Linked DNA regions of Homo sapiens. The protein of the gene in region 1 purifies or fractionates together with the protein of each later gene. This does not show direct contact. Each region holds a gene or a part of one and is shown on either strand. Other genes may lie near its edges. The genes, in order: TRIL and MLLT11.

Region 1 (4,408 bases):
TTGAACGGAGATTATGCCACTGCACTCCAGCCTGGGCAACAGAGTGAGATCCCACCTCAAAAAAAATAATTTTTGTTTTTGTGGTGTTCTCTATTACTGCCTTATATTATTATCTAACCTTTCAATGCATTCATTGCCCTTCCCACTAGATTGTCATTGTCTTCAGGTGAGGATCTGTATCTTTCCTTTAATTTTCCACATTGTTGCAGAGTACGTCCTCAAAACTTACGTTTTCTCAACACCTTGGATAGGGGAAGGGCCCTTATTTTTTAGCAAGATGGTTTATATAAAGAAACAATAATTAATAATTAACAACTCCTCCTTGTGTATTCTCATTCTCAGCAGGGGCTGATCCCAAAGGAGCCGTTGATTAAATGCTCCATTCCCTAGAGATAATAAATAATAATGCTTCCCCAACTGAGCCAGGCCTGAACATTTTTGGGCCTAAAGACTTTGAAGATCACTGCAAGTCCAGGCGTAAAGCAGGAGGGCCCTGCAAGGAACGTTTACCTTAGGATCTGTGAAGGTTATTATGTATGTGCACACGAGCAGAGCCTACCCCAGGGGCTCTATTACTGTAGGAGAGTTAATGCGACTGAATCACCAAAATGTGGCAGAGACACTTTCATGTTGGCAGAACCAGTTCTGTGATTTCTTCATGTTCTAGCCCACAGCAGGATGGAGTAAATACTCCCTTCAGACACCTAAAAGGGGGTGGTGCCTCTCCTCAGCTACTAGTCCAACGACGTCAAAACCCAAGCAGCAACTGTCAGACTGGGTTCACCTACCCCCTTCTGATGGCCTTCTGCAGGCAACCTTGTGCTCCCCCAAACTTCCTGTAGAATGCTGGCGGACTCCGTGCTGCCCAAACTTCCCGCAGGGTGGCACCTGGAAGAGCAAGTGACTTAACAACGAGGAAGGCCAGGCGCGCTCCCACTGCTCAGAAGCGGCTGGTGTACTCGTCTAAAATAAAAAGGTCTCTGTCTGCAAATCCCGTTTGCTAGCCCGGTAATCCTCCCCCGCCCCCGGCCTAGCGTGTCCGGCCCGTACAGCTGTTTTTAATCCCTACTTTTCTCACTTGGCATCCCGGGCCCGGGCTGACCAGACGCGGAGCCACTTAGTGTTTCCTCCTCCCCCTGCCGGGGTCTGTCCTCCCTCTGCCGTCTCCTCTTTCTCCGCCTGCGTCCCCGCGGGCAGAGTGTGGGAAGAACGAATTTCCGCCCCGTTTGCTCTCCGCTCGCAGACTTGGGTCCCTTCCGGACGCAGCCCGCGTGCTCCCCGAGCTATTGCACTGGAGCCGCCCTCCCCGTCCGGGACCGCGAGCGAGAAGGTGCCGTCTGCGGGGGCCGAGCAGCCGGGGCTCTGCTGCCAAGCCGCGCCCCGCGAAGCTCTTGGAACGGCTCCCGCCTGCAGCTGGGGAATCCACTCGGCTGGGAGAATCCGCGCCAGGGAATCCAGCTCTCCGGACTCAGCTGCAAACAAAAAGCGCCGGGTCTTGCTCCCTCCTCCCGCCCGCCGACGCGCACCCGGAGAAACAGTTTTATACAGAAATGCAACAAGTAGTACCCGGGGTCTGCAGAGCGCCCCGCGCCGCCTGACTTGGCCGGGCGAAGCCCGCCTGCAGAGACCCGGGCCGGCCTCCGGACAAAGGACGGAGGAGGGGCTGGACGGCGCTGCGAAGTCCGAAAGAGGCCATTTAGCGACTCTGGCCAGGCTAAGGGGAATGCAGAGGAGACACAGAGCCGGCGGGCCAAGAGGACGATCCGGCCGCTGCACGCAGGGCGGGAGGCGATGGAGGCTGCCCGCGCCTTGCGCCTCCTGCTCGTGGTGTGCGGCTGCCTCGCGCTCCCGCCGCTGGCCGAGCCCGTGTGCCCGGAGCGCTGCGACTGCCAGCATCCCCAGCATCTCCTGTGCACCAACAGGGGGCTCCGCGTAGTGCCCAAGACCAGCTCGCTGCCGAGCCCCCACGACGTGCTCACCTACAGCCTCGGCGGCAACTTCATAACCAACATCACGGCCTTCGACTTCCACCGTCTGGGGCAGCTCAGACGGCTGGACCTGCAGTACAACCAGATCCGCTCTCTGCACCCCAAGACCTTCGAGAAGCTCTCGCGGCTGGAAGAGCTGTACCTGGGGAACAACCTCTTGCAGGCGCTCGCCCCGGGCACGCTGGCCCCGCTGCGCAAGCTGCGCATCCTCTACGCCAACGGGAACGAGATCAGCCGCCTAAGCCGCGGCTCCTTCGAGGGCCTGGAGAGTCTAGTCAAGCTGCGGCTGGACGGGAACGCCCTGGGGGCGCTGCCGGACGCGGTCTTCGCTCCCTTGGGCAACCTGCTCTACCTACATCTGGAGTCCAACCGGATCCGCTTTCTGGGCAAGAACGCCTTCGCCCAGCTAGGCAAGCTGCGCTTCCTCAACCTCTCTGCCAACGAGCTACAGCCCTCCCTGCGCCACGCGGCCACCTTCGCACCGCTGCGCTCCCTCTCCTCCCTCATCCTCTCGGCCAACAACCTGCAGCACCTCGGGCCGCGCATCTTCCAGCACCTGCCACGTCTCGGCCTGCTCTCGCTCAGGGGCAACCAGCTCACGCACCTCGCGCCTGAGGCCTTTTGGGGCTTGGAGGCCCTGCGCGAGCTGCGCCTGGAGGGTAATCGGCTGAGCCAGCTGCCAACTGCGCTGCTGGAGCCTCTGCACAGCCTGGAGGCGCTGGACCTGAGCGGCAATGAGCTGTCCGCCCTGCACCCGGCCACCTTCGGCCACCTGGGCCGGCTGCGCGAGCTCAGCCTGCGCAACAACGCGCTCAGCGCCCTATCCGGGGACATCTTCGCCGCCAGCCCAGCCCTTTATCGGCTGGATCTAGACGGCAACGGCTGGACCTGCGACTGCCGGCTGCGAGGCCTGAAGCGCTGGATGGGCGACTGGCACTCGCAGGGCCGGCTCCTCACTGTCTTCGTGCAGTGTCGCCACCCCCCGGCCCTGCGAGGCAAATACCTGGATTACCTGGATGACCAGCAGCTGCAAAATGGATCCTGCGCGGATCCCTCGCCCTCAGCTTCCCTGACCGCTGACCGCAGGCGGCAGCCCCTACCCACGGCCGCAGGGGAGGAGATGACGCCACCTGCAGGTCTCGCGGAGGAGCTGCCGCCGCAGCCGCAGCTCCAGCAGCAGGGGCGATTTCTAGCTGGGGTGGCCTGGGATGGGGCCGCCAGGGAGCTGGTAGGCAACCGCAGCGCCCTAAGGCTGAGTCGGCGGGGCCCGGGCCTCCAGCAGCCCAGCCCCTCCGTCGCTGCCGCCGCGGGCCCGGCTCCACAGTCCCTAGACCTGCACAAGAAGCCCCAGCGGGGCCGTCCGACTCGGGCAGATCCCGCCCTCGCGGAGCCCACCCCAACGGCCTCTCCTGGCTCTGCGCCATCGCCCGCCGGCGACCCCTGGCAGCGCGCGACGAAGCATCGTCTGGGCACGGAGCACCAGGAGCGTGCCGCCCAGTCCGACGGTGGGGCCGGGCTGCCGCCGCTGGTGTCCGACCCATGCGACTTCAACAAGTTCATTCTGTGCAACCTGACGGTGGAGGCGGTGGGCGCAGACAGCGCCTCGGTGCGCTGGGCCGTGCGCGAGCACCGCAGTCCCCGGCCGCTGGGCGGCGCGCGCTTCCGCCTGCTCTTTGACCGCTTTGGCCAGCAGCCCAAGTTCCACCGCTTCGTCTACCTGCCTGAGAGCAGCGACTCGGCCACGCTGCGCGAGCTGCGCGGGGACACCCCCTACCTGGTGTGCGTGGAGGGCGTGCTTGGGGGCCGTGTCTGCCCTGTGGCTCCCCGGGACCACTGCGCGGGGCTGGTCACCCTACCGGAGGCCGGGAGCCGGGGCGGCGTCGACTACCAGCTGCTGACCTTGGCCCTGCTGACGGTCAACGCGCTGCTGGTGCTCCTGGCCTTGGCGGCCTGGGCGTCTCGCTGGCTGCGTAGGAAACTGCGGGCTAGGCGGAAGGGCGGGGCCCCGGTCCACGTTCGGCACATGTACTCCACCCGACGGCCCCTGCGCTCCATGGGCACCGGCGTGTCCGCCGACTTCTCGGGATTCCAGTCGCACCGGCCACGCACCACCGTGTGCGCGCTCAGTGAGGCGGACCTCATCGAATTCCCCTGCGACCGCTTCATGGACAGTGCGGGCGGCGGCGCGGGCGGCAGCCTGAGACGGGAGGACCGTCTCCTGCAGCGATTTGCCGACTAGGTCCAGGGCATATAGAGACCATCTCATTGGCCCTAAGGAGCCGCCTCTCCGTGAGGCCCACCAGCCCACCTCAGGGGAAGTGCCGTTTTGTGCACTTGCCAGAGAGGCCGGTGGGGACAGAGGGCCAATTCGGGCACCATCCCCCAATTCCCAATACTCGAGAAGTAAATGGATGGTACTT
Region 2 (3,632 bases), on another chromosome or scaffold:
GCCGAAGCAGGCAGATCACGAGGTCAGGAGATCGAGACCATCCTGGCTAACATGGTGAAACCCCGTCTCTACTAAAAAATACAAAACATTGGCCGGGCGTGGTGGTGGGCACCTGTAGTCCCAGATACTCGGGAGGCTGAGGCAGGAGAATGGTGTGAGCCCAGGAGGTGGAGCTTGCAGTGAGCCAAGATCGTGCCACTGCACTCCAGCCTGGGCGACAGAGCAAGACTCCGTCTCATTGAGAGAAAAAAAAAAAAAAAGTAGAAATTCATAATAAAGGGTTTCTGAAGCTTGTCCAAGGGAACTTGGATTCTCTCCAGAGGCAATTGGGGATGGTGAGTTTCTTTTTTTTCCTCCCCAAATTCCTTTTTACTGGTGGGATTGGAGGATATACAATTTTCTTTCTTTAATAGAAAAAAAAAAAAAAAAGAAATTCCTTTTTACCAGTATGTGGAGTATCTAAGCAAGGAAAGGCCATGGGCCACAAAGAAGTTGCTGTAGCATGAAGACTGACAAGTGGTTTCTTTCTAGGAAGCTATGAGGGACCCTGTGAGTAGCCAGTACAGTTCCTTTCTTTTCTGGAGGATGCCCATCCCAGAACTGGATCTGTCGGAGCTGGAAGGCCTGGGTCTGTCAGATACAGCCACCTACAAGGTCAAAGACAGCAGCGTTGGCAAAATGATCGGGCAAGCAACTGCAGCAGACCAGGAGAAAAACCCTGAAGGTGATGGCCTCCTTGAGTACAGCACCTTCAACTTCTGGAGAGCTCCCATTGCCAGCATCCACTCCTTCGAACTGGACTTGCTCTAAGGCCAAGACTTCTCTCTCCCATCACCTTGCCCTCATTGTCTTCCCTCTCAAGCCCCTTCCTTTCCACTCCTTTCCCATTTTAATCTTGTTCTCTCCCTACTGTGTTGGTGGTGCTGATGAATCTGCCAGAGTTGAGTTCTATGTATTTATTTATCTATCTGTCTACTCCATTTCTCTCAAAAGCCCTCAAGTCACAAAGTAAATGGTTCAAGCAATGGAGTACTGGGTCACAGGGATTCCTCCTTTCCCCCCCAAATATTAACTCCAGAAACTAGGCCTGACTGGGGACACCTGAGAGTAGTATAGTAGTGCAAAATGGAAGACTGATTTTTGACTCTATTATAATCAGCTTCAGAGATTCCTTAAACCTTCCTAATTTCCTGCTCCAGGGCAGTAAACACAAATATTTCTTCAAGGGGTGATGAAAACCTCGGAAGTTTTAATTTGAGGTTATCTGCTACGAAACAGTATTTCTAAAAGGCTAAAGTGATAAGTCTCTTGCTTTTTTTTGATCCTGCTCTTATATTCTTTTTTTTCCTCAGAGAAATCAGGAGGGTAGTTAGAGGTATAAAACAGGAGGAAATATTATGGAAAATGAAAATAGGGAAAATAATTGAATCATTTTAGAAGTAGCTAATTTCTTTTCTCAAAAGAGTGTCCCTTCTTCACACCTACTCACTTTACAACTTTGCTCCTAACTGTGGGTTGAAAACTCTAGCTAAAGAAAGTTATCAAATCTTAACATGCATTCCTACTATTATGATAGTTTTTAAGGTTTCAATTCAATCTTCTGAACGGCATAAGTCCTATTTTAGCCTTACCTCCTGCATTTGCAATACGTAATACTGATCAGTGGGCACAGTTCTTCAGCTACATTGAGACCCTGAAATGAACAATTATATTCTGACTCGACATCTTGTCCCCAATCCTTCCAAAAATATTGATGGTGATTTGTGCTACCATTTACTCGTTTATTTAATAAAGACATTCAATCCCAGGACTGGAGTCTAATTTTCTCTCTTCACAAGAAAAGCCACAGAAATCTGAGAAATTAGCCTTGCTTTCACACTTAGCTTATACATCTTTTTTTTCTTTTTTATTTTTGAGACAGGGTCCCACTCTGTCACCCAGGCTGGAGTGCAGTGGCGGGGATCACCGCTCACTGCAACCTCCACCCACCAGGGTCAAGGGATCCTCCCACCTCAGGCTCCCAGGTAGCTGGGATTACAGGCGCCTGCCACCAGGCCTGGTTAATTTTTGTATTTTTCATAGAGACGGGGTTTCACCATGTTGGCCAGGCTGGTCTCTAACTCCTGACCTCAGGTGATCTGCCCGCCTTAGCCTCTCAAAGTGCTGAGATTACAGGCGTGAGCCACTGAGCCCGGCCTCATTTTATCTTTCTATAATAATATTCAACTTAGAGGAAGAATGATTTGAGTAGCATTTAGACATTAGATGGTGAACTTCGCATTGAACAGATAATGAAAGGGCAAAATCAACTTAAAATTAGAAAAGTAGTTAGGGAGACAGGTACAACCACTCTTCTGCTTGCCCACTGACTACCAACATTATATTTCAGGTAATAATTCTCCTAGGTGCCTAAGAAGATAAACGAATTCACTCAAATATGTTATCTGCTTAACTTCTGGTTTTTGTGTGCCTGCTATAGGAAAGCACTGAGCCAAACAGAATGTAAACGGGAATGAGACAAGACTCCAACTCTCAAAAGAGAAACTGTAAATACCAATATGGATAGGACAGAATTGGGCAGTGTACTATAAATAAGGATGACACTATACCCTAAATAAGGATGATCTAGAGAAGTCCCCAGGTGGGAGAAAAAAAGACAAATCCTCCCTCTAGGCCATGAAAAGCCCACATCTAAAGACGGTCCCAGTCTAACGAAGAATGGGGCCAGGAAGGATAAGTAGTGCGTCCTTTTCTATTTTTACTGAGTTTTGAAGGGCCCCTTCAGAGTCCTTCAGCCATGGCAATTGGTGGGTGGAGACAGGGATCAACTGTTTGGTAAATAAAGTGACTAAATGGATTTGCAAACTCATGCTCCATCCTCTTGCAGGCCTCCAAAAAGAAATGACTCAGGCCGGGCGCGGTGGCTCACGCCTGTAATCCCAGCACTTCGGGAGGCCGAGGCGGGCCAATCACTTGAGGTCAGGAGTTCGAGACCAGCCTGGCCAACATGGTAAAATAAAACCCCATCTCTACTAAAAATACAAAAATTAGCCCAGCGTGGTGGCGGACGCCTGTAATCCCAGCTGCTGGGGAGGCTGAGGCAGGACAATCACTTGAACCCGGGAGGCAGAGGTTGCAGCGAACCGAGGTCACGCCACTGCACTTCAGCCTGGGCGACGGACGAAGCGAGACTCCGTCTCAAAAAAAAAAGGCCGCGCGCGGTGGGTCACGCCTGTAATCCCAGCACTTTGGGAGGCCGAGGCGGGTGGATCACGATGTCAGGAGATCGAGACCATCCTAGCTAACACGGTGAAACCCCGTCTCCACTAAAAATACAAAAAAATCTCCGGGCGTGGTGGCGGGCGCCTGCAGTCCCAGCTACTCCGGAGGCTGAGGCAGGAGAATGGCGTGAGCCCGGGAGACGGAGCATGCAGCGAGCCGAGATCGAGCCACTGCACTCCAGCCTGGGCGACAGAGCGAGACTCCGTCTCAAAAAAAAAAAAGAAAGAAAGAAAAGAAATGACTCAGTTATTTGTTTCACTGTTCTCACTGACAGCTTGGCTCTGGGGTCCTTACATTCGGCCTGTAACTGGAAAAATGTGTCCATCAGGCACCAGAACCCAATGCACAAA

What was found.
Region 2: the proteins of TRIL (region 1) and MLLT11 purify together in Homo sapiens (co-immunoprecipitation; one study listed by IntAct). This does not show direct contact.

What each region holds. Positions count from the first base shown.
Region 1 is NC_000007.14:28,955,430-28,959,837, reverse strand, and holds the start of TRIL (TLR4 interactor with leucine rich repeats precursor), read left to right. Parts: upstream 1-1,507; 5' UTR 1,508-1,791; coding exon 1,792-4,227; 3' UTR 4,228-4,408. UniProt on the Homo sapiens protein: Component of the TLR4 signaling complex. Mediates the innate immune response to bacterial lipopolysaccharide (LPS) leading to cytokine secretion.
Region 2 is NC_000001.11:151,066,688-151,070,319, forward strand, and holds the end of MLLT11 (protein AF1q), read left to right. Parts: intron 1-531; 5' UTR 532-537; coding exon 538-810; 3' UTR 811-2,857; downstream 2,858-3,632. UniProt on the Homo sapiens protein: Cofactor for the transcription factor TCF7. Involved in regulation of lymphoid development by driving multipotent hematopoietic progenitor cells towards a T cell fate.